4 linked regions of the Homo sapiens genome follow. The protein of the gene in region 3 purifies or fractionates together with the protein of the main gene of each other region. This does not show direct contact. Each region holds a gene or a part of one and is shown on either strand. Other genes may lie near its edges.

Region 1 (7,017 bases), on a different chromosome or scaffold from region 3:
ATAAAATACTATCATTCAAATTTCTGTTTTCTAGTGTTTGAAATAAAGGTGCTAGACCAAGTGAATTTCAAGACCACATCCAACCCCAACACAATGATGTCTTCAAAAATAATAATATACTAAGAAAGAATGGAGGTAGAGGCTATGCACACACAAAAAACTTATATAAGGGAGTAGATTAAGAAGAAGCAGTAAACAAGAAGCCCATGCTTGATCCCCTAAAAAGTGTTCAATAAAACTGATGCATTACACTATGGAAACTAGGTTAGTAATAGGCACCTACTAAACAGTTAAGATTTTTTAAAGGTTCCTATCATGTTTATATCTAAATGTGTTTTAGTTTGTTTTTCCAATCAGAGCGTGAATAGAGTACTCTTCATCAAGAGCCTCGTCTTGTCCCTTAAAGCCAGCCAGCCAGCCAGCCAGCCCACTTTTTTGTGCCAACAGACGTCAGGGTGGCAGGTACTGGGGGGTCCCTGATTCCTGCTGCTTACCTTTCTTGCTGCCAATGGTCCTTAAAATCCAACCATGATGCCCTCTCTGTGTGTGCAAATTTGGGGAACCAAAGGAAATAAAGCTTGTAAACAAGCACTAAATTTTCCCAGCCGCAATTTGTTTTTGCTCCCCAAAGGTACACAGATAGTAAATTTTGTAAGATCAAAACAGTTTTTAGTATTTATCCAGCATAATCATTTGTCCTAAGCAAACATGTAAGGGGCTTCTTTTTGAGACCAATGAATAGGCAGTTAAAGTAAATGATTCCATCTCTCCAGACCCCAACACGCTCAAATTCACTTGAAGAGAAACACTTTTTAATGCTGAATTTGTTTTAAGATGAAATTGCCACCTAAAAACAGACCATTTAATAAAGAGGCATACTGCTAAAGGTTATGAGTCCAGGCTTACACAGGGAAGTCTCAGACATCACACATCAATTGCTGTCTGACCTTAGACAAATTACTGAATCTGTTGATCTGTTCCTCAGTTTTCTCATCTGTTAAGTAGGGATAAGAAGGGCACAATATCTGGCATGCAGTAAGAGCTGAAAAGGACAGCACTTGCAGAGATAAGTCTTTCTCCATTGGCATTCTAGGGAGTGCTTCTCTGGGTGTCCTAAGTCTAAGTTTTTCTTAACCTTGGGAGCGTTGGTTTCTCATTTGTCAACTGCAACAGTCACTGACTGTGATGTTTTGTGCTCTCTCATCCACAAATTCTCATCACTTACTGCTTCATTTCCAACTTTCTGAAAATAATTCTTCCACTCTTCACCTCCTGAATGGTAAAGGTATAAATTCAAGCTATCAACTACTTTTCAAAATTATCATCTCTACAGTGTTTTCTTAATTTAACACACTATGTTCACGAGGTAAAAAGAAGAATTTCAAGACCAAGTAACAAGTCATCTATCATAGCTATATACTTGTTCCTTGCAATAAATAAAAATATTATCATTAGAATTTCTGTTTTAAGTGAGAAAATTGGATAAAACCACAATTGAATTTCAAGGTCACTTATAAGAAAAATTTTTTTTAAAAGGAGAGCTTTTTAAGAGACAGGGTCTCGTTTCATTGCCCAGGCTGGAATGCAGTGGCCTGATCATGGCTCACTGCAGCCTTGAACTCCCAGCCTCAAGCAATCCTCCTGACTCAGCCTCCCAAGTAGCTAGGCCACCGTGCGTGGCTTAAAAAGCTCTTTAAACCCCTAAAAGCTAAGTAACATGAAACATGCTTAACACCAGCACGCAGATCTCAAGGATTAACAGTAGCTACATACAACCATAGGAAGGCAAGATGACACAGAGGTCTGGGTGGCTTCGAGTCTAGCCCTGTGATTATGTGGAAGGTAATTAAACTCACTGAGCCTCAGTTTCCACTTTAAGGAAATGGGATTAATAACATCTACCTCACAGAGATGTTGTGAGCATTAATATGAAGTGACACCTCAAGTTGTGACTACAATACCTGACCCAGAGTAAGAGCTCAAGAAATGAAAACCATCATTATGACCCCCTATGTAGAGAAAGAAGTTTGCTTACCATCAGAGTAAAAATTAGAACAAAATGCCAAGATCCTTTCAAAAGTCCTTTCTCAACCACTCAGAACACGACTGCTTAAGTCTGTGGGCCATCCAGGTCCTTTTGTCTCCTCTTTCCCCTTCATCTACTTGCCTTCTGCCATGTCCCTACGCATTAACTTCCCCTAGGGACTAGGAAGGGGAGAAGGGGAAAGGTTAGAAAATAGAGGTAGTCATTGTTGCAACCTATGCCCAGCTCTAAGAAACTCCAAAAGCAAAGATGCAAAAAGCAATTTAAACTGTTGGCCAAAATTAAATGGGGAGTTGGGGGGGAGTGTGAATAGACGTACAGTTTTCTTTCTTGCACTATTCCCAGGCTCTACTACAACATCAACCACAGAAATGCTCCAAAAATGGTAAACATTGGCTGAGAGGAGAAGGGACAGCTCAGCAAACGCTAAGGCTGACAACTGCAATTCCATCTCTGCCAGGAGACACTTGTTTATTAAAGTCTCTCTCTCAGCCTTGCTGTATTCACACATGGAACAGGAGGACTCACTCCAACTCCATTTTCAGAGCTAAAGTGCAGGGCAATGGAAAAGACTAGAGAAAGCTCTGGAAATGGAGAACCTTAATGAACCAACTGCTGCAACAGTGGTCAGTTCCTGCAAGTTATCACTGATTAAAGGGAAAGCAAGCACCCTCGATCTCACAAGCTTTTTTTTTTTTTTTTTTTGAGACAAAGTCTCACTCTGTTGCCCAGGCTGGAGTGCAGTGGTCTGATCTTGGCTCACCGCAACCTCCCCATCCCGGTTTCAAGCGATTTTCCTGCCTCGGCCTCTCAAGTAGCTAGGACTACAGGTGCCCACCACCATGCCCAGCTAATTTTTGTATTATTAGTAGAGACAGGGTTTCACCACGTTGGCCAGGCTGGTCTCGAACCTCTGACCTCAGGTGATCCGCCTGCCTCAGCCTCCCAAAGTGCTGGGATTACAGGTGTGAGCCGCCGTGCCTAGAGGTCTCACAAGCTTTTATGTGTGAAGAGTTACATCCTGACAATTTGTGAGATCAAACCCACGTTCAGACCATCAGGCAGTGTTGCACACTTGGCCTACAGAGCAAAACATTTCTTTTTTACCCTCTGATGGTCATATAGCACCCACTATCTTCTCCAGAGTGCAGAAGGCTTTATAAAATCTCTCAATTGGCCGGGCGCGGTGGCTCATGTCTATAATCCCAGCACTTTGGGAGGCCAAGGCAGGCAGATCACGAGGTCAGGAGATCGAGACCATCCTGGCTAACACAGTGAAACCCCATCTCTACTAAAAATACAAAAAAAAATTAGCCAGGCATGGTGGCGGGCACCTGTAGTCCTAGCTACTCGGGAGGCTGAGGCAGGAGAATAGCGTTAACACGGGACGCGGAGCTTGCAGTGAGCCAAGATTGGGCCACTGCACTCCAGCCTGGGCGACAGAGCGAGACTCTGTCTCAAAAAAAAAAAAAAAAAAAAACTCTTTCAATCCCAGAGTTCCTGCTATTTAAGATTCTGGATCACTGCACTATTCAGTCCCTGGGAAAAGTGAACTGCTCTACATTTGACCCCTTTATCAAAGTAAAATACTGATACATCCCAAAGCAGTCTCCGACAAAGGTGAATCAAAGTAGATGTGAAATTCTGCATAGCCAGAGGCCAAAATCTGGTTTTCTTTCTCAAGGTTCCAAATTTCTTCCAGTGCATGCATAACCTGTATTGGATGCCTCATCCAGGAAAAACTCTGTGCTAGGTTTCATTTTTACTTGTCTCATCACCTAAACTCAATTTTAAACTTCTTGAGGGCAGCAATTACGTCATCAGTTTCTGTACATCCAACAGTGACTAGAAGAATGCTGGGCTTAAAGGCTGTCGTGGAGCTGAGGCACACATGATGAAATTTTGAAAAGTAGCACTGTACCACAAAAGATCTGTGCTCTATTTTTTAGAAGGAAATAATTTTTTTTAAAGAAGGGGGGAAATGTGCATGAAGATGGTCCCTGCAAGTCTAAAATCCAAAACTTATAAACAATTTAAGTGGTTATAACTACTCAATGGATATTTACATTTTGGTTGCTGTACTTATTACACATCCTTGAGCAATTTACTTCTCTGTGCCTCACTTTCTGTCTCTTTAGAATGGGAACCTGCCTAACAGCCCTTGTGAAGAATAAGTTAGATAATTCATGCAAAGCAGCGGGAACAGTACCTACTGCAGAGTTAAGTGTTCAATTAAATGATGTCTCTCATTATTTCTCAGCTACTCTAAATAAATATAATGACTGTTACCAAGGTAAAAATGTTCACTATAGTGTTACAAATAAAGCGAAATATAAAATTATACATTAACTTTTATTACAATAATGTAAAAATATATTCCATAGTTTTTTTTAAAGAAAACACGTATTTTAAGCACCTATTATTATTGGACATCTTGTTAGGAGTAGGGCTATACATAAGCATTGAGTAAGTCCTAGTTCCTGATCGGAAGGCAGAGAGACAACAACAGAGAATTTCAATTCAAGTCGGGGAATGTGCATGAGATGCTAGAGGAGCAGACACGGAACACTCAGCCCAAGCCAGAGTTCGGGAAGGAACTCCTAGGAGATATGTCATACCTGAGTCAAAGCAGAGGGAACTAAAGAAGGGTACAATTTCCAATACAGCATCAATAATCAATTAGAAGATATAATGGAGGGTCAGGCATGGTGGCATGTAATCTTAGCACTTTGGGAGGCCACAGTGGGAGGATTACCTGAGGCCAGGAGTTCAAGACCAGCCTGGGTAACATAGCCCCCATTTCTACAAAAGAAAAAATTTTAATTTTAAAAAATTAACCAAGCATGGTGTTGCATGCCTGTAGTCCCAGCTACTGGGGAGGCTGAAGCAGGAGGATTGCTTGAGCCCAAGAGTTGAAGGCTGCAGTAAGTTATGATCACACCACTGTACTCCAGCCTGGGTGACAAAGCAAGACCCCATTTCTTTAAAAAAGAAAAAATAAAGGGATATTTGGATGTCTGGCAACATTTCCTCCCTTCCCCGTAGAAGTAACCAGCCATGGTTGAGAGGTGGAGCCCTCTTTTGGTGGGGCGATAGCTCTCAGCTTCATCATAACTCCCACCCACCCCTCTATGCAACAATTTCACCTACCCAGTCACTTTGGGATCTTATTTTTGAACACTGCAGAAAAAATAACAGCATGGGAAAACATGCACGACATTACATAACAGACAAGAGATTAATATCTGTATTCACACATAGAACTTCTCAAATGAATGTGAAGAAAATAAGCCAATTTTTAGGAAACTGGCAAAGACCATTTACAAAAGAAATACAAATGGCCAACCAACATATAAAAAGAATAATCTCTCTTCTAATTGGGAAAAATCACACTAGTGTTTTTGCCCATTAGGTTTGGGGAAAAAAAGATGATAATATTCTATCTTGGCAAGAGTATAGGGAACTGGCAAGCACAAACACTTTTGATGGAAGAGGAAATCAGAACAATTTTTTTGATGGGCAATTTGGCGGGAGCAACCAAAATCTATTTATTTATTTATTTTTAACTGTTTATAGAGATGAGGTCTCACTATGTTGCTCAGGCTGGAGTGCAATGGCTATTCACGGGCCCGATGAGAGTGCACTGCAGCCTTCAGTTCCTGGGCTCAAGTGATCCTCCTGCCTAAGCCTCCCAAGTAGCTGGGACTACAAGCGTGAACCATTGCACCCAGCTTCAACAAAATTTAAAACATGCATACACAGCTGGGCGCGGTGGCTCACAACTTAATCCCAGCACTTTGGGAAGCCTAGGTGGGCGGATCACGAGGTCAGGAGATCGAGACCATGCTGGCTAACAAGGTGAAACCCCTTCTCTACTAAAAATACAAAAAAAAAAAAAATTAGCCAGGCGTGGTGGCGGGCACCTGTAGTCCCAGCTACTCGGGAAACTGAGGCAGGAGAATGGCGTAACCTGGGAGGCGGAGCTTGCAGTGAGCCGAGATCGCGTCACTGTACTCCAGCCTGGGCAACAGAACGAGACTCCGTCCCCAAAAAAAAAAAACAAAAACAAAAAAAAAAAACACATACACTTTGCCCTACCTATCCAGGGATTCCACGAATTTGACATATGAAACTAACTCACATATGGCTACTAAGATACATGCACGCATCTACCAGGATGTTCAATGGCAGTGCTTATTGAAACATCCAATGCAAATGGAAGTGACCTAAATGTCCATAAATAAGGGAAGGGCTAATTACATTATGGTACATCCATAGGCTGGAATGCCACGCAGCCATTAAAAAGCGTGAGGTAAGGCCGGGCGCGGTGGCTCACGCCTGTAATCCCAGCACTTTGGGAGGCTGAGGCGGGCGGATCACGAGGTCAGGAGATCGAGACCATCCTGTCTAACACAGTGAAACCCCGTCTCTACTAAAAATACAAAAAAAAATTAGCCGGGTGTGGTAGCGGGCGCCTGTAGTCCCAGCTCCTCGGGAGGCTGAGGCAGGAGAATGGCGTGAACCCGGGAGGCGGAGCTTGCAGTGAGCCGAGATCCCGCCACTGCACTCCAGCCTGGGCGACAGAGCGAGACTCCGTCTCAAAAAAAATAAAAAAATAAAAAAGCATAAGGTAGATCTACATTTGTTGACACAGAAAAAAAACTCTCAGATATGGTTAAATGGAAATATCAAGTGCCATAATAATTAGTACAACCTAGACAATTTCAGAATTTTTAAAATGTGTAAGGTGATACACCCCCGTGCACATTAATATACATAAACACTTTTCCCCTATTGTTAACCACTATCAATATACTTATACAGCTGATCCTTTAATAACACGGGTTTGAACTGTGAGGGTCCACTTACATTCAGATTTTCTTCTGCCTCTGCCACCCCGAGACTGCAAAACCAACCCTTCCTCTACCTCCTTTTCCTCCTCAGCCTACTCAGCGTCAAGATGATAAGGATGA
Region 2 (7,862 bases), on a different chromosome or scaffold from region 3:
GGTACTGACTTGAGGGAACCCCCTAAGGTCAAAGAACCTAGGATGTAAGCCCTAAGCTCCTTCACACTTTACGCCCAGGAGGAAATGAGGCATCTGAATGATCATGGCATACTTACCAGCTGACCACTCTTTAGAACTTTGCTGTTGATCTTACATAAGCTCACCTCACAGATTAGCCTGGGAAAGGAAAAAAATTAAGAGCACTTGGCCTTGCCGGGCGCGGTGGCTCACGCCTGTAACCCCAGCACTTTGGGAGGCCAAGGTGGGAGGATCATGAGGTCAGGAGATCAAGACCATCCTGACTAACACGGTGAAACCTCATCTCTACTAAAAATACAAAAAATTAGCCAGGCGCGGTGGCGGCCGCCTGTAGTCCCAGCTACTCGGGAGGCTGAGGCAGGAGAATGGTCTGAACCCAGGAGGCGGAGCTTGCAGTGAGCCAAGACCGCACCACTGCACTCCAGCCTAGGCAACAGAGCAAGACTCTGTCTCAAAAAAAAAATTTAAAAAAAAGAGAACTTGGTCCCTTTCCTCACCACTTACCTCCAGTCAAGCTCTGGTGGCTAGAAGGGACAAGGCAATTGGAAATGTCTAATCTTAGCATCTCCTCCAACTGCACAGAATGAGAACTTAACACCTTGATAAGGAGGCCCTGAAGCAACTCTGAGGCAAGAATAGGACGGCTAGATCCTCTGCTCCCCAGTGCTTACCTTTTCCCATCACTATCCAAAAGAAATCTGCTTCTACTGATCTGAATATGCCATAAGGACTCAGAGGTATCCACCTTGAGAACCATGATGTTTATAGCATCTACATGAATGGAGAATAGCTGGAAGGAAGAAGCAAGGATGAACAATAATTAATGTTAAGGAACTGCCCTTCCTTTCCAGATGAGAAAGAGGGGCAGCTCTTAGCATTATGCCCTAAAAACAGAAAAATCTACCCATAACTCCAAAGCCAACCATGCCAAAGTACAGTCCAGGATAGCAGGAGAAGTTGTCTCACTTGGCAGAAGATCTTCAATAAGGATGGGCTGAAGGACAGTTCCTTTTGATCCACCCCAGCGCTCTGGGAGAATGGGGCAGACAGGTCAGAAACTTTCTGTAGGTCCGTTCTGATACGCACTTCTCCAAAGCACAATGCCACATAGTGTCTGCCCAGAAGAGAAATCTCACTGCCACCAGGTCCATCCCTCCCATAGCAGTCTATTCCCCACCCTCACATTCACTTTCTCATCCTTCCTAGAAATATAGCTCAAATCACAGAGATTAGTTTCATAGCAGTTATCAATATCTTCCTCACAACACAATGGCACCCAGGCTAACAGGAAGACTTCAGCAACAACCTCCCTTCCTCCTTGGATTGTGATGCCTCTGCAGAAGAGTGTCACTCTGCAAACACCAACTCCAAAGTACTCTTCTAGGGGAGAAGTGAGAATATAGGGTACTCACGGAAGATCATGGCTAAGGAGTTTGCTGGAAATCCACAGGTTATCAATTTCCTAAAACAGTGAGGGAGAAAGCTCTGTGTGCTAGCTGCTAAATAAGCCACGAGCAGCTTGACAAGCCAGGAAATGTTCTGGATTATTAGAATTTCTCTTTCATAGCCATGTTGCCTTGAATCCCATCTTAAATTAGAACAGTAAAATCTTCGATTTCCTGTTATCTTTCTTCTGTATCTTTGTTATGTGCCCTGGACACTCTGTGTCCTACAAACATTTTTAACTGAACAACTTGCAGCGTTCTCCAACTAGCTCTAAGATCATCTTGGCAAAGAAATGGCAAGGCTGGGATTAACTAGAAAAGCCACCAGGATTTCTATTTTTAAAAAAAGGAAATTAAGAGTTTAAATTCAATTGGATCAACCCTACACACATATCCAGAGTTTCCCAGAACTCACCACTGTTTGCTGGTGTTGCTGAAACTTAAGACTGACATTCTGGATCCAAAAAAAGCGGAAGGAGCCAATCTTTAGCTCCGCCTGCAGCTTCCGCTGACACCACTTGGTGGCCAACCGGACCACAAGCCACCTGCAGAAAAATTCCTGTTAATTCATAGGACCTTTTTCCAATGATGGTTTCCCTCACCCCTTGCTGGTCTTTCAAAGCCTTGCAAAAGGTCGTTCCTGAAACTGGATCTGAGCAACTCTCCTTTCTTCCAAAGCACCACTCTGTCATATACATTCAGCCACGCTGATCAAGATCCTAGCTCCCGACTGACCCCTCCACCCAGATGAAACCAGAAACTGCACCCTCTAAGTTGAAGACAAAAACAAAATCCCTCAAATTGTTATGAATCCCAGAGGCAGAGAGAGAAGACCCCAGCAAGAGTCAAAGCGGAGGCGGCTCTGTCACATGTGCCATCACACTCCCCAGAGGGTCTGTCTGTCTCCTGCTCCCACCCTCCAGACAGGTATCCACGAGAAGGCACTTTGAGGTCAGACCCGGCAGCTCGAATGCTGTTCTCCCCAGACCGATGCTGCAGGTGCCCATCGCGCTTGGCGAAAGGGACATGCAGGGGTGGGTGGAGGGGGAAAGGGAAGCCACTGAACCAGGCCCCTTCCTCACACTCCTATTCAGTTCCTGGCCTCAGCATTTCCTCAGACCCCGCCCGCTTCCTCAGTCTCCCCAACTCGCAGCCCATCCCTGGGAGCTCGGGCCACGCGCCTCCTCACGATCCCTCCCCTCGCCGCGCGCCCCCTCCCTCCACCCTACCCACTCTGCCTCACGCGCCTCAGTAAGGCGCGCGCCCCCTCCTCAGTCTTTCTTCCTCCTCTCCGCCCCCTCCCTCCCGCCGCCGCCGCCGCCGCCGGCGCGGCCGGGAACCCTCACCGGCCTAGAAAGAGGGCGCTAAGCGCAACTAGCAGCAAGACCAACAGCGCGGAGAAGAACAGAGGCATTTAGGTCCGGGTCCGGCCCGGCTTGGCCCCGGCCCCCGCCATGCCGGGCCCCGACGCCGGATCCGCGCAGCACCGCCGCGGGCCGACCAGCTGCGCGCGCAGGAGCAACGCTGAGCGAGGACGCGCTGGTGCGCACACGAGCCCCGCCTTCCGCAGCCCGCCAGCCAACCAACGGCCTCCCACCCCAGTCCCGCCCTGTCCTACGACGCTGCAGGGCCGACGGGCTGCGTGCGCGAGGAGCGGGCGTGGTTCCGGGAGGAGGGCGAGGGGGAGCGGACCAAGAGCTGAAACACGCCCCGGGCGCACACCACGGTGCCCGGAACCGCGGGGCTCGGGGACCCGCGGGGGTCGGAGTCCGGGCCCACTACCTGGGCTGGCGGTGGACCTGGCTGACTCATTTCGGTCCGGGGAGCTCACTTTGAGGGGAGTTGGAGTCCGCCTAGCCACTTAGGCCTGGACTCAGGGTTCTGCGGAAGTTACACCCCTGGTCAGACGTGGTAGCACTCCCATCTTATTCAAGATCCTGTTTGAAAATTACTGAGGCAGAAACTAGGAGGTAATTAAAAGGCCTCAAAAATCTCGCCTCATTCCATCCACAGAGGAAACTAATGAGGTTTTGTTTTTTTTTTCTTTGAGACAAGGACTCGCTACGTTGCCCAGTCTGGTCTCGAACTCCTGCAGGCTCAAGGGATCCTCCTGCCTCAGCCTCCTGAGTAGCTTGGACTAAAGACGCGTGTCACGGTTCCTGGCCAATGAGTTTTTACTTCATTTACTGTTTGAACACTGTTCTGGTCCATCTACTTATGGCACGAACTGGGCCCTGATGGAGGAGAGGAGGAGATACTGCAGAAGTAGTGAATATTGTTCTTGCCCTTTAGCAAAAAATAGTTTATCTGGGAAGCAAACATAATTACATAAAGTAGACAATACATAGTCAGTTTTGCCTGCTTCCTTCTGTGTAGTTTATCTGGGAAGCAAACATAATTACATAAAATAGACAATACATAGTTTTGCCTGCTTCCTTCTCTGTAAAATGAGAGAACAGGACAAAGGTCCCTCAGCGTTACTGTGCTAAGGATCAGTATCTGAATGATGATCTACTGATACAGCACAAGCTAAGGAAATCCTGACGGTTTCAAAATAAGTATTATGGAGGAGGTCATGTCTCTTTTCATACCCCTTCGCTCCCACGTCCTAATCTCCATATATATCCTTCAAGATTTTACTCAGAGCCTCTCTTTTTGGCTCCCTCAGATAAAACACCATTTCATCTTTCACCTGTGTGTTGCCCGAAGTTGCTTTCACTCCTCTGATTGTTTCCTCCCTTATCTATTCCTCTCTTCAGTGATTTCACATCTCCCCAAGAGCTCCAGCGCTGCTGTTTCAAGGTCATACTTACCTCTCAAGCACTGTATTTGCGTCATCTTCCTCGTCATCTGCAGCCTTCCCCCAGGGTATGTCCTCCGAATGCTCTGGGAAGGCCCAATTCACTGAAAACCTCTGTCCAAGTCAAGGAGGGGTGCCGTGCAACACGTATCCCTACTCTGGTTCATCTTATCCAATCTGTTTATTGAACCAAGATTCCTGTCACTTCCTTCCTTCTCCCTTGACTATTACCGGCCCTACTCCCAGCCATCTCATAGCCTAAAATGTTGATTTTATGATTTGTCTATTTCTTTCTGGAGAGATCTTAAGGGATCAACACAAGTGAAGTGGAATAAAGGCAGGGAGTCGGGGGTGGGGGGTGGTTGAGGCAACAGTGGGGCTCAACTAATTCATGGCCTCCATTTATTGAGACCACAAGCCCTTGTAAAAGAGACCAAGTCTTTTAACGTCACGGGCCATGTTTGGCACAGAAATGGTGTCTCTAAATGTTCAACATTAACAAAACAAATAGAAAAAAAAAGAACAAAACCCGGAAGTTTCTAAAAATAAAAAAAGCCTGCTAGTCACTGAAATTCCAGCAGATGGCAGCCATCTCCGTTCACCAATACCATGATTGGAAGCTACAGGAGCAAATTTTCTGCAATTGACACAGGAAAGGAGGAAATCAGGTAGGCAGAGGACAAAAGTAGTTTTCTATCCACCTTTTTAGAGAGATATATCTACGTTTGTCCAAAAAACAGGATTTGTTTTCCAAAAGCTAAACACAATCGTAGTGCACTTAAAAAAACCTGAGTCAGAAACAGCTGGATTCCTATTCCAAAATGATTTATTAGTTTTAAGAATTCAGGCCGGGCACGGTGGCTCACACCTGTTTTCCCAGCACTTTGGGAGGCCAAGGTGGGCGGATCACAAAAGGTCAGGAGTTCAAGACCAGCCTGGCCAATATGGTGAAACCCCATCTCTACTAAAAATACAAAAATTAGTCAGGTGTGGTGGCGGGTGCCTGTAGTCCCAGCTACTCAGGAGGCTGAGGCAGGGGAATCACTTGAACCTGGGAGGCGGAGGTTGCAGTGAGCCGAGATTGCACCACTGCACTCCAGTCTGGGCGACAGAGTGAGACTCCATCTTAAAAAAAAAAAAAAAAGAATTCAGGCAGTAGGCCAGGCATGGTGGCTCACTCCTGTAATCCCCAGCACTTTGGGAAGACACAGCATAAGGATCACTTGAGCCCAGGAGTTCCAGACCAGCCTGGGTAACATAGTGAGACCTCATCTCTACGATAAATCAAAAACTGACACAGGAGGATCAACTTGAGCCCAGGAGGTCAAGGCTGTAATAAGCCATGATTGTGCCCCTCCCACCTAGGTGACAGAGCAAAGAACTTGTCTCAAAAAAAAAAAAAAAAAAGAATTCAGGCAGTTACTCAACTGCTGCACTGATAAAAATGCAGTATTACCCTATATGAATTCTGTGAAGATTAAATGAGGTAAGATCTATAGGCCGGGTGCGGTGGCTCACGCCTGTAATCTCAGCACTTTGGGAGGCTGAGGCGGGCGGATCATGAGGTCAGGAGATCGAGACCATCCTAGTTAATACAGTGAAACCCTGTCTCTACTAAAAATACAAAAAAATTACCCTGGCGTGGTGGCGGGTGCCTGTAGCACCGGCTACTTGGGAGGCTGAGGCAGGAGGATGGTTGTGAACCCAGGAGGTGGAACTTGCAGTGAGCCGAGATCGCGCCACTGCACTCCAGCCTGGGCGACAGACCGAGACTCTGTCTAAAAAACAATAAATAAAAAAAAAGATCTATAATATGGTACCTAGTATTTAGCAGTGAATAAATACTGGTTCGTTCTTTCTACCCCTACACCTTTTTCTCATCTGCAGTAACAGATACAAAGCAAACATTTCACTGGCTATTTATTATGCTGTATTCTCTGAGAGTTTTTAGCTATAATTAGTCAAAGATCTATTAAAGATGAGATGCCTGGAGAGAAGTCAAAGTAGAGGGAGAAAAGGTTTGTATGCAAGAAAAGCTCTTAAAAGGGCCCACATTGGAGCTTCATAGCGTCTCCAAAGAGTCTTAGGACTCAAAGGATTAAGCAGCTAATGAAATAGCACACCTAATAAATAACAACACAGTGACTCATAATAAAATTATTGTTTTTATCATTTTGGAGAGAGAAAATAGGGGGAAAATCACATACATTAACAGTCCATGATGCCAAGCTCCTGAAGAGTAAAAGTTTCCCAGCTAAGAGGGATGTTTCCCTCAGTTTGTTTTATCAGTACTAATAAAAAGCATCTGCCCCTTTACCAGCAAGTCCTCTACTCAGAAAGAACTGACCCACGCAAGTCTGGGAGAGTGACTAGTTCAAATGTGCAGGGCTGAAGCTTCCAAACACAGCCACTATTTTCTGTTGTATATCTTCATCTCAATGGTGACATGGCCACTGCCCAAGGAACTTGTGGCAGGGATCCCAAGGTGAGGCAGCAACAGATGTCTGTGAACATTGTGCGTTAACAGTGGCTCAGAGCCTCTAGATTCACAGCTCTGCATGGTGGGCTTCTGCCTTCAACAACTCACTGGGCTTCATGAAGATGCCTTCCATGGCTTTCCAGTAGTTGTTCTGACTTGGCTGGGCCATGCCATGCACCTCTTTTTGCCCACTGATAGGTCGACCATATTGTTCTCCTGTGACAGACAGCAGTACCTCAGTGGAAGAGTGTTTGAACCGCACCTCACCATCTCTCACCCAGTAGGGTCCATTACAGAGCACTGTCCAGTCATCCAGATAATCACCTTCACCTTCCTCACCAAAAGCACTCACTTCCTAGAAAATACAGAAGGTAGTAACATCAGCATGGCTGACAAGGGCTTGAAAAGGGGTGGGAGGCAATGGGAAGAAAAAGAAGGCCACCTTGAAGTAAAAAATCAGAGGGGCCAGGCTTATGCCTGTAATCCTACCACTTTGGGAAGCTGAGCAGGGCAGATCACTTGAGCCCAAGAGTTTGAGACCAGCCTGGGCAACATGGTGAAACGCTATCCCTAAAAAAAATACAAAAGAAATTAGCTGAGGTCAGGAGTTCAAGACCAGCCTGACCGACATGGAGAAACCCTGTCTCTACTAAAAATACAAAATTAGCTGGGTGTGGTGGCACATGCCTGTAATCCCAGCTACTCGGGAGGCTGAGGCAGGAGAATCGCTTGAACCCGGGAGGCGGAGGTTGCGGTGAGCCGAGATCACACCATTGCACTCCAGCCTGGGCAACAAGAGCAAAACTCTGTCTCAAAAAAAAAAAAAGAAAAAAAAAAAAGAAATTAGCTGGGCATGGTGGCACATGCCTATGGTACCCAGCTACTACAGCTATCACCTAAGTCCAGGGGATCAAGGCTGCAATGAGCTGTGATCATACCACTGCACTCCAGCTTGGATTACAGAGCAAGACCCCATCTCAAAAAAAAAAAAAAAATTCAGCTGCTTTCCAGTGTTGTTATTTTATTTATTTATTTATTTATTTATTTTGAGACAGAGTATCGCTCTTGTTGCCCAGGCTGGAGTGCAATGGCGCAATCT
Region 3 (7,898 bases):
ACACACGTGCCCACCAGATGCCACGGGGAGCGAATCGCATCACTAAACCCACTTGGCAGGTGAGGAGACTGAGGCCAAGGCTGCCCAGCAGAGAATGACCCAGCTGCGCGGGGCCTCAGCCTGATCCCAGAGCCCAGGACAGCAAAGGAGGCCCGGAACGGCCCAGCTGCCTGGGAGAAGCCCTCGTGGGCAGGCACACAGCCCATGGCAGCCAGTCCCCCCTGCGTCAGAGGCAGGCAGGAGCTTCCCGACAGCCAGCCCAGGTGTCTCAGCAGCAGCAGTGCCGCCCCTGACTCAGCCGCCGGGCAAGCTCCCCAGCGGCAGAGACGCCCCGTTTCGAGGGCACTGGTTGTGGCTGGGGACTTTCCCCATTGCCAGATACGGAGCAGCCGTCCCTCCCCAGAACAAACGCCAGGTGTGCCCATTTCCCAGCATAAAAAATTCGTTTTTGAGACAGCGTCTTGCTTGTCACCCAGGCTGGAGTGCACTGGCACCATCACGGCTCACCGCAGCCTCCACCTCCCAGGCTCAAGCGCTCCTCCCACCACCTCAGCCCCCGCCAGTAGCTGGGACTCCAGGAGTGCAACAACACACCCCACTAATTGTTTTAGTCTTCTGTAGAGACAGGGTCCTGCCACGTACGGAGAAGTTCTGACACTGCCATGCTGTCTACGGGCGCCTTGTTGCGTCCTGCTCCAAAGGCACAAGCAGATGCCCTTGGGATCACCCGCGGGGTGGACACGGGCAGGCCCCCGCAGCCCTCTCTGCAGTTATTTGCTCTTAAGGAATCTACCAACGTCCATGATTAAATATTTGTCAATCACTGTTCCATGCTGGCTCCCTGGCCAGCCTGTAAATTCTGTGAGGGCAAAGACCACAGCGGCCTGTCACCACAGAGTTCCTTTCACTACAGGAAGGCCCTCCCCAGGCCCAGTGACAGTCGGAGGAGGTCAAGGTCCTCCGTGTCCAAGGCCACGGGGCGAGGAAGTGGCTCCACCACACCAGGATCCAGTCCTGTGCGGGCTCTAGGAGCAGCTAAATGTGCAGCCGAGTCAAGGCAGTGTCGGCCCCCCACAGCCACCACTCCAGGCTTCCCAGGGGCTTCCCAGGCCTGTCCCAGGGCTCAAGGGGCTGCAAGGGGCTGCCCTGCAACTCACCCAGGCTGGCGGGCTGTCAGGCAACCAGCCTCTCCTGCCACGGCCAGTGGGGACAGAAAGCTGGAAGAGGCAAGAGCGAGACCCCTGGGAGACAGAGGAGTAAGGCAAGGCTCAGTCTCAGCTCCCCAACCTTCGCCCCACACCCGAGATTTCACTTTATTTGTTCCTCCTGCTGGGGAGGGGAAGCCCTGTGGCTTCAGTAGAGAGGAAACCACACCTCTCTCTTTCCACTCCTGGGCCTGGCCCCGCTCTCCCGCCATGCCCCAACTCTAGCACTCGCTCCTCCTCTGTGACCCAGAGACAGGCGGCTTCTCCTGACTCCCTCCAGCCCCTTCCTGGGTCTCTACTCCCGGGGAACTGCACTGCTTCTGGGGGGCTTGGACTTCTCTTACGGGTCAAAGCGTAGCAACAGCCGGGCGGCTACGTACACAGCACAGTAAATCCTCAATGCCTGCAGCCTCTTCCCCTGGGCACAGGGTGGGGAGTCCAGACCCCTCCACCTCCTGCGGCTGCTCCCCTCAAGCTGGCCAAGCGGCTCCCGACTGAGCCGGCTCTGCCACTTTCCCGCTGAGCCACCACGCGCCTCAGTTTCCCCATCTATAAAGCACGGGTGGCTCGACTAAATCACCACTTTGCACGTCAGCCTGGCGAAGGGCAACACGGGTTAAAAATGCAGACCACCGCCGGGCACGGTGGCTCACACCTGTAATCCCAGCGTTTTGGGAGGCTGAGCCAGAAGAATCGCTTGAGCCCAGGAGTTCAAGACCAGCCTGGGCAACACAGGGAGACCCCATTCCTAAAAATAATATTAGAAATGCAGACTGCTGAGCGCATTCCACACCTACTGACTCCGAAACCCTGGAAAAGGGGCCTGGAAATAGCACCTTCAACGAGCGCTGCTCCCACCTCCCCCAAGGTGACATCAGGTCCGCGTGGGAAACACTGCCCTAAACGAGCAGGAAGTAGCACTCGGCACGCCCAGGCCCAGGGTCCTCTTCGGTGAGGGGCGGCTGTAAACACCTGGAGGAAGGGTGGGCTGCGCAGCCAAGCCCCGGGAGGGGAGGAACGCAGGCTCTGCTCACAAAGCCCCGCCGGCGGGCCGCGGTCGGACCCCGGGACAGTGCCTGGGGCGTTCCGGGCCTGGGCCTGCCTCCAAGGCGGCGGCCAGGGCTCCACGAGGCGAGCCTGCAGCGAGGCGCCGGCGCCCCCAACCACGCGCTCGGCGGGGGTCCCCTGGCGTTATTCTCGGGGTCCGAGCCCCGCCAGGCCCAGCCCCTGCCCCGCGCCGCGCCACCGGGCAATACCCTCTCTCTGCTCGCCGGGCCTCAGTTTCTCCGTTTGCAAAACCAGGCTCACCGGGCTTAGGGATCCCACCTGGGATCCTCGCGGCCTCTCGGGTCGGGAACGCCGCGGATGTGGGGTCACCCGGCCGCGATCCCGCTGCGCCGCTCCGGCCAGGCCCTGCCTCCCGCCCGGGCCTCAGTCTCCCGCATGTACAGGACGGGGTTCGCGCGCGCACCGCCCGGGCTCCCCGCGGATTCAGCCTGGGCCGGCGCTGCCCCGAGCCTCAGTTTTCCCGTCGTGGTCAGCTCGCGCAAGAGGCGGGCGCAAGCGACCCCCACCCCGGCCCCGGCCTTGCCTCAGGCCTGCGGCGCAGACCCTGCCGCCCGCCGCCCCGGCCCGGGCCTCACCGGCAGGCGCGGGACGATCTCCACGGAGCAGCAGTGGCAGAAGTACCGTCCGGGATGCGGCGACGCCTCGGCCATGGCCGCCGCCACCTACTCCGCGCCGCCCGCCCCCCGCGCGGCACCCGCCGCCGGCCGTTTGCTGCTCCCTCGCCGGCCGACGCGCCCGCGCACGCTCACGCACGGCACGCACGGCACGCGGGGCGGAGCGGGGGCGCGGGAGCGGCGAAAGCTGCGTACTCGGCGGGCAGCGGCCCGGGCGACGGTGGCCGCTGAGAGACAAACTAGGCCCGGCCGTTGGGCGGGGCTCCAAGCGGGGGCGGGGCTTCCGGCGGGGGCGGGGCCAAAGCAGGCGGCGGAAGAGACGAGAAGCGGGGCGTGCGCGGGGCGGGGCCGAGGCCCTCCTCCCCTCCCGAAGCTGCCCAGGCCTTCGTGTCCCTCAGTGCTTCCCTACCTCATCGCCGTCTCCCCTCACGGTACTTCAGCCCACTGTCCCCACCGTTCCTGGGGCTCGCCAGGCGCCCTCTCCCCCGCCCGCTGCCCGGTGCAGCGCTCTCCCGACGCCCGCGTGGCTTTCTTCCAGGTCTTTGCTCAAATGTCAGCTTACAAGGTCTTCTCTGCTGCCCTCCTGCTCCGTGGCACTGATTCCCTCCCGATGCACTGTCAGGTCAGCTGCGCAGCAAAGGGATTTTTGGACCCGCAGCAGCGCCTGACACACAGCAGGCATTCCCTCAGCGCTGCGGAATACAGGCAGACCCGGGGCTCAGGGCGCTGTCTGGGCCTCACTGGGACCCGTGGGGTCAGACAGAGGCTGAGGTCTGTGGGTTGTGGCCTTGTTTCCAAGATGCTCCACGGGCTGACGGCCCAGGCGCCTCTCGGGTGCGGAGAAGGCAGGAAACCTAACCCCTGCTTCCAAATTTAATCAGTAGAAACGGTATCATCACCCAGCACAGGCCAGGATCATTTCTGAGGTTAGTTCTGGCCCAATCATGCATGCATTTCTTTTTTCTTTTTTTTTTTGAGACGGAGTCTCACTCTGTCACCCAGGCTGGGGTGCAATGGCCCGATCTCGGCTCACTGCAACCTCCGCCTGCCGAGGGTTCAAGCGATTCTCCCGCCTCAGCCTCTCGAGTAGCTAGGACTAGAGGCACCCGCCACCACACCGGCTAATTTTTGTATTTTTAGTAGAAACGGGGTTTCACTATATTTGGCCAGGCTGGTCTTGAACTCCTGACCTCGTGATCCGCCCGCCTCGGCCTCCCAAAGTGCTGGGATTACAGGCATGAGCCACCGCGCCCGGCCTCATGCGTGTATTTCTTTCTTCACTCAACACTCATTGAGCAACTACTGCACACCAGACCCTATGCTGAATGCACGCAGATACCCCCAGTCCCATGAGATTGGACAGGAGCGTGGAACTCAAGGGTGACTCTGGCTCTGCCTGGGGAAAGAGAGAGAGGGCTTCCGAGGGGTAAGGACATTGGAACCAGGGCTGAGGGATGAATAGGATTTGGTTGGAGTTGGACTTCCTGCAAAATGAGGCATTGGAGCGAGACTGTTGAGGAATTAAGAGTTGGAGCCTGTGCATTTAGATTTTTTGTTTGTTTGTTTGTTTTTTAGAGATGGAGTCTGGCTCTGTTGCCCAGGCTGCAGTGCAATGGCGCAATCTCGGTTCACTGTAACCTCCGCCTCCCGGGTTCAAGTGATTCTCCTGCCTCAGGCTCCCGAGTTGCTGGGATTACAGGCTGGGCACCACCACGCCCGCCTAATTTTTGTATTTTTAGTAGACGGGGTTTCACTATGTTGGCCAGGCTGGTCTCAAACTCCTGACCTCAGGTGATCCGCCCGCCTCGGCCTGCCATAGTGCTGGGATTACAGGCGTAAGCCACCGCGCCCGGCCTGCATTTAGGGTTTTGAATGTCCAGAGGTTGGGGACAGGGGCTTCAGCCTCCTTCCAGTCGTCTTTGCAGCAGCGCGAATCCAGTCATTCCTGCTCTGACCACCAGAGAGCGCACGGGCCCCGTCCCTGGGAATCCAGGAAAACCCCAGGCTGGGGAGGGGCGAGGCTTGCCAGACGCAGCCCCTGCACCAGCCTTCACGCTCCGCAAGTGCAGGAGGAGCAGCAGGCCTGGTTCAAACGACGCCAAACCACGAACTGGCTGTGTGTCCCTAGGCAAGTGGCCTAACCTCTGAGAAGGCGGCAGAACCTGACGGTTTTCCGTTGGCTCGGAGCAGACATGAGGACCGCTGGCACCTCCTCAGCCCTCTCTGTGCTCTGCTGCCTGCCCCGAGTCACCTGCCCCTCGCTGACCCCTCCCCAGCCTCACTGGCCCCCTTGGGTGGGCTAAGCAGGTTCCCACCTCTGGGCCTTGCAAGGCTGTGCCCTTCCCCAAGTCCCCTCTCCTTCCCCTGCTTTTTTTTTTTTTTTTTTTTTTTTTTGAGATGGAGTCTCACTCTGTTGCCCAGGCTGGAGTGCAATGGTGCGATCTCAGCTCACTGCAACCTCCGCCTCCAGGGGTCAAGCGATTCTCCTGCCTCAGCCTCCCGAGTAGCTGGGATCACAGGCATGCGCCACCACGCCCGGCTAATTTTTGTATTTTTAGTAGAGCTGGGGTTTCGCCATGTTGGCCAGGCTGGTCTCGAACTCCTGACCTCAGGTGATCCGCCCACCTCGGCGTCCCAAAGTGCTGGGATGACAGGCGTGAGCCACCGCGCCCGGCCCTTTCCCCTGGTTTTTAGGAGGCTGCCCCATCCACCACTGCACCCCACTTCTCAGAGCCCCCTTTCCATCCCCCACAGCCATCCTCACATCTGTGGGTTATTAATGGCGTCTCCCCATATGTGAGGCCAATACCCAGCGCACCAGTAGGTGTTCAGTAGATTCCCAAATGCACCAACAGTTGCCGAGTGTCTACTGTGTGCTGGGCTCAAGCAGGTGCTGGAAACACAGTGGGAATGAGAAGGAACGTAGGGATTTTGTATCAAACTAAGCAGGGCGAGGTGGCTCACGCCTGAGACCAGGAGTTCAAAACCATCCTGAGCAACATAGTGAGACCCTGTCTCTACAAAAATAGAATTAGGCCGGGGACAGTGGCTCATGCCTGTAATCCCAGCACCTTGAGAGGCTGAGGCAGGAGGATCACTTGAGTCCAGGAGTTGAAGACCAGCCTGGGCTACATGGTGAAACCGTGTCTCTACTAAAAATACAAAAATTAGCCAGGTGTGGTGGCGGGCACCTGTGATCCCACCTACTCAGGAGGCTGAGACAGAAGGATCACTTGAGCAGGAGGCAGAGGTTGCAGTGAGCTGAGATCGGACCACTGCACTCCAGCCTGGGCCACAGATGGAGACCCCATCTTTTTTGTTTTGTTTTGTTTTGTTTTGTTTTGTTTGAGATGGGTCTCCCTCTGCCGCCCAGGCTGGAGTGCAGTGGCATGATCTGGGCTCACTGCAAATTCTGCCTCCTAGGATCAAGCGATTATCCTGGCTCAGCCTCCCAAGTAGCTGGGATTACAGGCATGTGCCACCACGCCCGGCTAATTTTTGTCCTTCTAGTAGAGACGGAGTTTCTCCATGTTAAGTAGGCTGGTCTCCAACTCCTGACCTCAGGTGATCCGCCCACCTCAGCCTCCCAAAGTGCTGGGATCACAGGCGTGAGGCTAATCGTTTTAAATTTTTATTTTGTAGAGATAGGATCTGGCTATGTTGCCCAGAGTGATCTCCAACTCCTGGGCTCACGGGATCCTCCCACCTTGGCCTCCCAAAGTGTGGGGATCACAGGTGTGAGCCAGAGTGCCCGGCCACCCCTTTATCCCAAACACACCAAAAAGCAGGCTGCTCTTCCCTGAAGGCAGTAGCACATTGATCAAATCGGCCAGTGGGCACTGACACTGCTGCACACAAATGCACACACTTGCACCCTGCCCCAGGCCCCACCGGCCACCCTGGTTCCACAGACGGCACCGTTTCTCCCATTTCCTCTCACCAGGGACCTCGACAGGTGTGGGCTTGGTTCCGTGAGCTCTCTTAGCCCCTTTTTCAATTCAGGATCCCGTCCCCGTGAACCCTGGGGGCCTCGGCAAACATGAGACGAGAGGACTCCTAAAGGAATGACACGCGCCACTCCCTCCGGGGCAGAGAGGTGTGTTGACAGCTCATTCTCACGTCCCAGGCAGACCAAGCCCAGGTGGACCACGTCCCAGGCAGACCAAGCCCAGGTGGACCACGTCCCAGGCAGACCAAGCCCAGGCGGACCACGTCCCAGGCGGACCACGTCCCAGGCGGACCACGTCCCAGGCGGACCAAGCCCAGGCGGACCACGTCCCAGGCGGACCACGTCCCAGGCGGACCAAGCCCAGGTGGACCACGTCCCAGGCGGACCACGTCCCAGGCGGACCAAGCCCAGGTGGACCACGTCCCAGGCGGACCATGTCCCAGGCAGACCACGTCCCAGGCAGACCAAGCCCAGGCGGACCACGTCCCAGGCAGACCACGTCCCAGGCGGACCAAGCCCAGGTGGACCACGTCCCAGGCAGACCAAGCCCAGGCAGACCACGTCCCAGGTAGACCTAGTGGTTGTGTATTCACTTCTCCCAACCCCCCTGGGAAGAAATAACTGCAGCTGGCCCCATTGCACCAATGAGGAAACTGAGGCCCAGGGAGGAAGCCGATTGCCTGAGGCGGCAGCTTTGGGACTGGACTGTGGCTGCCTCCTGAGGAAGGAAACAGTTCCTCCCTCCACCCTCATCCTGGCAGGGGTTGGGCCACCGTTGCTTCATCAAGTGTCGTGGAGCCTCCGCTCTGTGCCAGGAGCGGGGCCTGTGCCACAAACGTCTGCTGAAACCAGCCATCCACCCAACAGTATCGAGCACCATGATCGGAAGAGTAAAGGCCCCAAACTGGGCCAGGGGCGGTGGCTCATTCCCGTAATCCCAGCACTTTGGAAGGCTGAGGCGGGTGGATCATTTGAGGTCAGGAGTTCGAGGCTAGTCTGGCCAAAATGGTGAAACCCATCTCTACTAACAAAAAAAAAAAAAAAAAAAAAAAAATGGCCGGG
Region 4 (7,017 bases), on a different chromosome or scaffold from region 3:
TGCTGCTGGGCCCACAGGGTGCACGGAATGGGGTCTGTGGGAGGATGGGGGCATCCTAGCCCAGGGCAGGGACCCCGTGGGCCCCCCAAGATGAGCTGCGTCAGGCTGTTGCTTTGCACACTCTGAGGGGCCTGCCTGAGTGCTGCATGGGAAGCCAGCAGTGTGGCCGCCCTCCCCAGAACTCATCCAGGGCACCAGGGTGGACCCATGAGTCCCGTCGGGTCATGGGCATCAGCCTCGCCATCCTGGCCTCCAGATACAACGATTTGTCAGATTCCCTGAGGTCAAAGGGAAGCTTCAAGGGTTGCCATCCCCGCCTCCCTGGCGGTCCTAGACGGGATGTCAGGAGGACGCAGGGCCATCGCTGCTTTTTAAATGTCACAGTGACTGCAGCGTCTGCTCCTCTGTGGAAGGAGCTTGCTCCGCTAATGAGGGAGTTCCTCCTCATGGCCTTCCCCTCACTTCTCTTCAAAAAGTTGCCCTTTATTTTAACATTTTTTAAGTTTTATTTTTTTGAGCCAGGGTCGTGCTCTGTTGCCCACGCTGGAGTGCAGTTGCAATCATAGCTCGCTGCAGCCTCAAACTCCTGGGCTCAAGTGATCTTCCTGCCTCAGCCTCCCAAATACTGGGACTACAGGTGGGCGCCACCACACCCAGCCTCTGCCCTTTGTAAGTGAAGTCCCCCAGGCAGGTTGAACCTCTTACACCTTCTGCCCCTGCCTGATCCCCACTCCCTACCCCCCACCTCCCTGTCCCCTGTAATGAGAAAGGCAATAAGTTTTGGAGCTTTCTGGAGTTCCTGCCCCTCCTGAAAAGGTGGCTGCAGAGAGGCTGGAGCTGATGGGGAAAGAGGTGCCACGAGGCCTCCTCTGGGTTAGGGCCACACGGCTCCCAAGGCCCCCGTCTCCTTCTCTGGGGTGACAGGTGCCCCCAGGGCCACACGGCTCCCAAGGCCTCCGTCTCCCTCTCTGGGGTGACAGGTGCCCCCAGGGCCACACGGCTCCCAAGGCCTCCGTCTCCTTCTCTGGGATGACAGGTGCCCAGGGCCACACGGCTCCCAAGGCCCCCGTCCCCTTCTCTGGGGTGACAGGTGCCCCCTGTGTCCCAGAGGCTTCTGCTTGGCCACCAGTGAGGTCACCGGGCTGCCCAGACCAGGGCTGCTTCTGCCACCACATGGCAAGCAGAGAAGTAGAGAAGTGCCAAAAACCACGAGTGCTTGTCTGGTCCTTTTTTCCTGTTAAAAATAGAAGTCGGGGCTGGGTGCGGTGGCTGACACCTGTAATCCCAGCCCTTTCAGAGGCCGAGGCAGGTGGGTTGCCTGAGGTCAGGAGTTCGAGACCAGCCTGACCAAAATGGCGAAACCCCATCTCTACTAAAAATAAAAAAATTAGCTGGGTGTGGTGGTGTGTGCCTGTAATCCCAGATACTCAGGAGGCTGAGACTGTAGAATTGCTTGAACCTGGGAGGCGGAGGTTGCAGTTAGCCGGGATGGCACCACTGCACTCCAGCCTAGGCGACAGAGCTATACTCCGTCTCAAAAAAAAAAAAAAGAAAAAAAAGTAGAATTCGGTTGGGCTCAGTGGCTCATGCGTGTAATCCTAGCACTTTGGAAGGCCAAGGTGGGTGAATCACATGAGGTCAGGAGGTAGAGACCAGCATGGCCAACGTGACGAAACCCCCATCTCTACTAAAAATACAAAAATTAGCTGGGCGTGGTGGTGTGTGCCTGTAATCCCAGATGTTTGGGAGGCTGAGACACTAGAATTGCTTGAACCCGGGAGGCAGAGGTTGCAGTGAGTCGAGATGGCACCACTGCACTCCAGCCTAGGTGACAGAGTGATACCCTGTCTCAAAAAAAAAAAAAAAGCCAGCCGCTGTGGCTCACGCCTGTAATCCCAGCACTTTGGGAGGTCAAGGCGGGTGGATCACCTGAGGTCAGGAGATTGAGACCATCCTGGCTAACACGGTGAAACTCCATCTCTGCTAAAAATACAAAAAAATTAGCCGGGCCTGGTGGCAGGCGCCTGTAGTCCCAGCTACTCGGGAGGCTGAGGCAGGAGAATGGCGTGAACCCAGGAGGTGGAGCTTGCAGTGAGCCGAGATCACACCACTGCACTCCAGCCTGGGCAACAGAGCGAGACTCTGTCAGAGAAAAAAAAAAAAAAAACAGGTGATGCCTGTGCCACTGGACACACCTGCACACCATCCTCATGCTGATCACAAAAGAGGGTGAGGGGCCGGGCATGGTGGCTCATGCCTGGAATCCCAGCACTGGGGGAGGCCGAGGCGGGTGGATCACCTGAGGTCTGGAGTTCGAGACCAGCCTGACCAACATGGTGAAACCTCGTCTTTACTAAAAATACAAAAATTAGCTGGGCACGGTGGCGGGCGCCTGTAATCCGAGCTACTTGGGAGGCTGAGGCAGGAGAATAGCTTGAACCTGGGAGGCGGAGGCTGCAGTGAGCTGAGATTGCACCACTGCACCCCAGCCTGGGTGACAGAGCGAGGCTCTATCTCAAAAAATAAAATAAAAAATTTAAAACCAACAAAAAAGAGGGTGATGGCTGAGTGAGGAGTCCATGGTGGGCCCTACACAGGGCCCAGGAAGGACAGGGCGGGAAGCGTGAGCATCCTGCCCACCGCAGTGGGTCCGCCATGGAGAGCATGACCTTAGAGAAGCAAAGCCGCCTGGCTCGAAGCAGTGGCCGCCCTGCTGACAGCTGTAGTGGCCGGGTGGCACTCGGGCTGGGGTCCGGGGGAGTCTAGGTGGCCACCTGGCTGTGTGCCTGTGCCTGCCCAAGCTGGGCACCTTTCCCTGGCAGTGCCTGGGAAGCTCGGCCGCCCTCCCTGGCTGGTGCTGCTCTGCAGCCCCGCTCATGGACTCTTGCCCACGGCCTGCTCCTTGTAGCAGGGTCGGGCCGTGGGAGGTCCGGACAGGATCTTGAATGGCCCTGTCTGCGGTCCTGGCTGGCCGGAGGTTGACCGCACTGGACAGGTCAAGGGCCTTAAACCAGGGTAGTGAGGAGCCTGCTGAGCCCCTGCTGCTCCCCGGGCTGCCTTTGGCGCTCGGACAGACACCCAAGGACAGAAGCTCGGACAGCTTCTAAGGCGAAGGGTCTCCCGGGGCTGATTTCCCGGGACTCTGGCTCCTGCAGAGAGGGCTGGAGGCGGGGCTCTGTGTTCCAGGGTCAGAGTCCTCCTGGTGGAAGCTGAGGTGCCTGATTAAATGCCTCCCTTTCTAGGCAGCAGCCCAGACGCGGCACAGAGAGGGCCTGGGAGCTTGCTGCAGCTTCAGGTGAGTTTGTTCCCAAGCCCTGCGGCTCGTTTATGGGTTTGCTTGCGCTGCAGAACTGTTTGTGGAGCAGCAGGGTTGGAGTGCCCACGGCTGGGGGGCCTCTCGGAGCCCTTGATTCACAGAACCCCTGGAGGCCGGCAGCCCTGCCTGCCCTGAAGAGCCTCGTTCTCCCAGCCGTTTGGGCCGTGGTCCTGTCGTGGGAGGCGACGGTGAGGGCGGCCCGGGGTCCCGACAGGGGTGTTTGTCCCTTTGGGGACCTCCCCTGTGCTGTGGCCCCGGCCCCCAGATGGAGCTCCCCATCCCCACGGCAGCGCTGGGGCTGGGGCTGGTGAGGAGCCTGTGCACGGCCCCCACCGCTATCCTCAGCCAGGAGGGTGCCTGGTCCCTGGGGAGCGGCCTGCACCTGTTTCTGGAGAATGCTGTCCTGCCAGTTGTCATTTGGGGCGGGCGGTCGGAGTCCACGTCCTCCCCCAGGGCGGGGCCCTGGCCTTGTTTCTTGTAGGGACGATGGGAAGCCCTGTCCTCAGCCCTCCCACCCGACTCATGCAGGAGCTTCCTGTCCTTGGGGTCATCTCCTCCACAGGGGCCTTAGCGTCAGTGGGGACAAAGGCAGAGTTGCCTGTCTTCAGGTTGTGGGCACCGACTGAGCTTCGTCCCGGTAGTGGCTGGCTCTTGTTTCCTGCCTGGACCAGCAGCCTCTGGTCTGGTGGGTGCAGTTTTAGGGCGCAGTGGGGTTGCCGTGGGGCAAGGCCAGGCCACCAGCTGCCTGGACACAGGGGCCCCCGCTTTCCATCTGCTGCCCCCCACACCCCCAGCTCGGGCAGGGGTGACACCGGGGCATCCTTGTTGGGGTCGCTGTGGTTCCCATGGTGGCAAGATGGCTCTGTGAAAGATTGACGGAGATGTAGGGCCCAGGAGCAGGTGCTGTGTGAGTGGGACACGCCTGTGTCACCTGCGGGGCAGGGGAGGGCTCGGGGGTACAGCCGTGTACATGATTAGTTAGCGAGACAGTGAGGAGTGTATGCGGAGTGGACACAGCTGTGGGTGCCGCCCGCGCAAGGCTGGGGGTCGCTGTGCCAGCCCTGCTCCCATGTGGGCTCCCAGCTCCCCAGGTAGGGACGCTGACCCCGGGAGGTGCCTTTGCCTGCATCCACTGGAGCCTCAGGAGCATGCGTTCCGTCCCCACGGGTCACCCCCACTGAGCCCACCACCTACCGAGAGGCACCTCGAGACCCTGTCCTGCCACGGGTGGGCTGTCAAGGCCAGCACCAGAGACCCCCAGCAGACCTCAGTGGCCGCAGATGGAGCGGGGCGGCAATGGTCACCTCCGGGACTCAGCCCTGTGCTGAGCCCCGGGCAGTGTGATCATCCTGGCCCTTCTCGTGCACGTCCCCTGGCTGGATGCTCCTTGCTGCCCTCACGGGGTGTGTGTGTGGCATACAGGACAGGGACCGGCCAGTTGGCCCTGCTCATTAACCACTTGTCCCCACAGGGCAGTGGCGGCCTCACCTCTGCAATTCTCTGAGGCTGGATCTAGGCCACCGCCCCGTTTAAAACTAGGGCATCGGCTCCCAGGGAGGGCGGGGAGCTGCACAGTTGGACTTGTGGGGGTCAGGCATGGATCCACACAGCCCGGGGCCCTCCGCACCCTGCCCCTCCAGGGAGCCCAGAGGCGGGCGTGGCTGCAGCCTGGCTCTGTGGCAGTCATGAGTCACGGCCACTCTTGAGGCGCCGCCCTGAGAGTCAGCCCTGTGGTCACGGCTCCTGCTGGTTCCCATTCGCGAGCACCTGAAACAGCCTGGCCCACAGCAGAGGCCCGGGGGGCACATGCAGCTCACGGGAGCAGCACAGATGCTTGGCCGGCGGCAGGCCCTACAGGAGCAGCAGCGGCCCAGGGCATGTCCCTGGGGTCAGGGGTCAGAGTTCGGCATGCTCTGCGGGGGCCTCACCCTGCTGTCCCTCGGCCTGGCCTGGGCACACTCCTTGGTGACAGTGCCCCTGCACGCCCCCCCCCCCCCCCGGTTATTCAGACAGGGAGCCAGGATGGGAACCACGGACTGACCTGACCTGCGTCCTCGGGGCCACTGCACTGGGTGATTCACGTGTGCCCAGGCCCTGAGGTGGGCCGGACCTGGGAGTGGCAGGTGAGCGTTCCTCCCAAGAGCCTCTGGCTGGCCGCAGCAGGCCCTGTCCCTGCTGTCCTCAGTGGCCCTGGACATGATAACCCCCCTGCCGAGGTCTGGCCGGAGCCAGCACCCACGGCCGAGATGCAGTCAGCCCTGGCTGGGCGCTGTCCCTGGGGGTGGCTGCTGGTGCTGCCCTCCCTCCTTCCCACCACTTCTTGCTCCTCTTTCCTGGGGCCCTCCCATCGGAGTCTTCCTCCTAAATGCAGTTCCCTCCCTCTAGGGGAACGCGGGCTGGGAGCCTATTTTTTTTTTTTTTGAGACGGAGTCTCGCTCTGTCGCCCCGGCTGGAGTGCAGTGGCGCGGTCTCGGCTCACTGCAACCTCCGCCTCCCGGATTCAGGCCATTCTCCTGCCTCAGCCTCCCAAGTAGCTGGGATTACAGGCGCCCGCCACCACGCCCAGCTAATTTTTTGTGTGTTTTTAGTAGAAACAGGGTTTCTCCATCTTGCGCAGGCTAGTCTTGAACTCCTGACCTCGTGATCCACCCACCTCGGCCTCCCACAGTGCTGGGATTACAGGCGTGAGCCACTGCACCTGGCCTGGGAGCCTTTTCCGTAGCTGCTCATCCTGTACTAGCATCTGTCCATCATGAGTGGACGGAACACAGGGGGACCCAGGACCCACAGCTGCACTCGGGAAGGCCAGCAGGGTGGATTTCGGGAAGAGCATCGGTGCCAGTTTCCCACAGTCACCCTTGCGATGGGACCCTCAGGTTGGCACGTGGCTGGCAGCTGTGTCCCGGGAGCTCTTGCTCCTTAGTGGGCCTCGCCAGCCAGGGCAGGGCCCCCGGCACCCCTCACGGGGCTCTTGACTCCTCTGGCAGCGGATCGGGGCGGTTCAGCGATACCATCTCTGGAGATCCCCTGGCGTGTGCTGGAAAAACCCCGGAGAGGGCTTAACAGAGCCAGCTGTCCAGCCTCTGTGACAGGGACGTTTGCTTTTCTCTGCAGGGTCCTCTCTTCTCTTCCGAGCACCCACGGGAGGGGACTGTGCTGTCCCTGCTCTCCTAGGACAGGCCTCCCTCCTGTCCAGATGGGGCCCACAGGGTCAGTTGCCTGAGACTGGCTCCAGCTCAAGAAAGGTTTTCTGAGTGAGCGCAGGGGAGCAGGAGGCTGGTGAGCAGCTCGCTTCCTGCCCTGGGTGCAGCTGGGCACCACTTCTGCCTTGGGCCTAAAGGCATCAGTGAGGAGCAGGCGGGGCCTGGTAGGAGCCTGTGTTTCTAGCGGCACGCGTGACCCCAGGTGCCACGTGGGTGAGTGCGTGGGTGGGTGAGTGGCGAAGGAGCTGAGGTTGGCCCTGGCAGGTGTGCAGTCCTCACACAGAACGGGCAGGGCTCCTGTCAGAGCCAAACCAGCTCAGGGCCCAGTGCAAGCAGCTTCTGTCCCGTGGCACCTCCGCTAGTCGCCGCTCCCACCCAAGCCCTGCCCCGCCCTGACCCGCTCAGGGTTTGGCTACAGAAGGGGAGTGTCGGAAATGCCCAACCCGTCTCCCGTGAGGGACTCCTGCGTGGCCTGGGCTGGGGAACGCAGGGGCCGTT

The links.
Region 1: the proteins of RNF126 (region 3) and KLHL42 purify together in Homo sapiens (affinity purification with mass spectrometry; 3 studies listed by BioGRID and IntAct, with this or other methods). This does not show direct contact.
Region 2: the proteins of RNF126 (region 3) and BLTP2 purify together in Homo sapiens (affinity purification with mass spectrometry; 3 studies listed by BioGRID and IntAct, with this or other methods). This does not show direct contact.
Region 4: the proteins of RNF126 (region 3) and CAPN15 purify together in Homo sapiens (affinity purification with mass spectrometry; 3 studies listed by BioGRID and IntAct, with this or other methods). This does not show direct contact.

The regions. Positions count from the first base shown.
Region 1 is NC_000012.12:27,783,227-27,790,243, reverse strand, and holds part of KLHL42 (kelch-like protein 42), read right to left. Parts: intron 2,206-7,017; exon of another isoform or gene 2,036-2,205; intron 1-2,035. UniProt on the Homo sapiens protein: Substrate-specific adapter of a BCR (BTB-CUL3-RBX1) E3 ubiquitin-protein ligase complex required for mitotic progression and cytokinesis. The BCR(KLHL42) E3 ubiquitin ligase complex mediates the ubiquitination and subsequent degradation of KATNA1.
Region 2 is NC_000017.11:28,642,159-28,650,020, forward strand, and holds the start of BLTP2 (bridge-like lipid transfer protein family member 2 isoform 1 precursor), read right to left. Parts: upstream 3,001-7,862; 5' UTR 2,899-3,000; coding exon 2,831-2,898; intron 2,030-2,830; coding exon 1,900-2,029; intron 1,502-1,899; coding exon 1,452-1,501; intron 1,154-1,451; coding exon 1,006-1,153; exon of another isoform or gene 944-1,005; intron 830-943; coding exon 711-829; intron 178-710; coding exon 117-177; intron 1-116. Other genes in the region: SDF2 (stromal cell-derived factor 2), read right to left, coding at 6,831-7,118. UniProt on the Homo sapiens protein: Tube-forming lipid transport protein which binds to phosphatidylinositols and affects phosphatidylinositol-4,5-bisphosphate (PtdIns-4,5-P2) distribution.
Region 3 is NC_000019.10:660,199-668,096, forward strand, and holds the start of RNF126 (E3 ubiquitin-protein ligase RNF126), read right to left. Parts: upstream 3,017-7,898; 5' UTR 2,924-3,016; coding exon 2,849-2,923; intron 1-2,848. UniProt on the Homo sapiens protein: E3 ubiquitin-protein ligase that mediates ubiquitination oF target proteins. Depending on the associated E2 ligase, mediates 'Lys-27'-, 'Lys-29'-, 'Lys-48'- and/or 'Lys-63'-linked polyubiquitination of substrates.
Region 4 is NC_000016.10:530,704-537,720, forward strand, and holds part of CAPN15 (calpain-15), read left to right. Parts: intron 1-3,242; 5' UTR 3,243-3,295; intron 3,296-4,612; exon of another isoform or gene 4,613-4,665; intron 4,666-5,325; 5' UTR 5,326-5,439; intron 5,440-5,933; exon of another isoform or gene 5,934-7,017.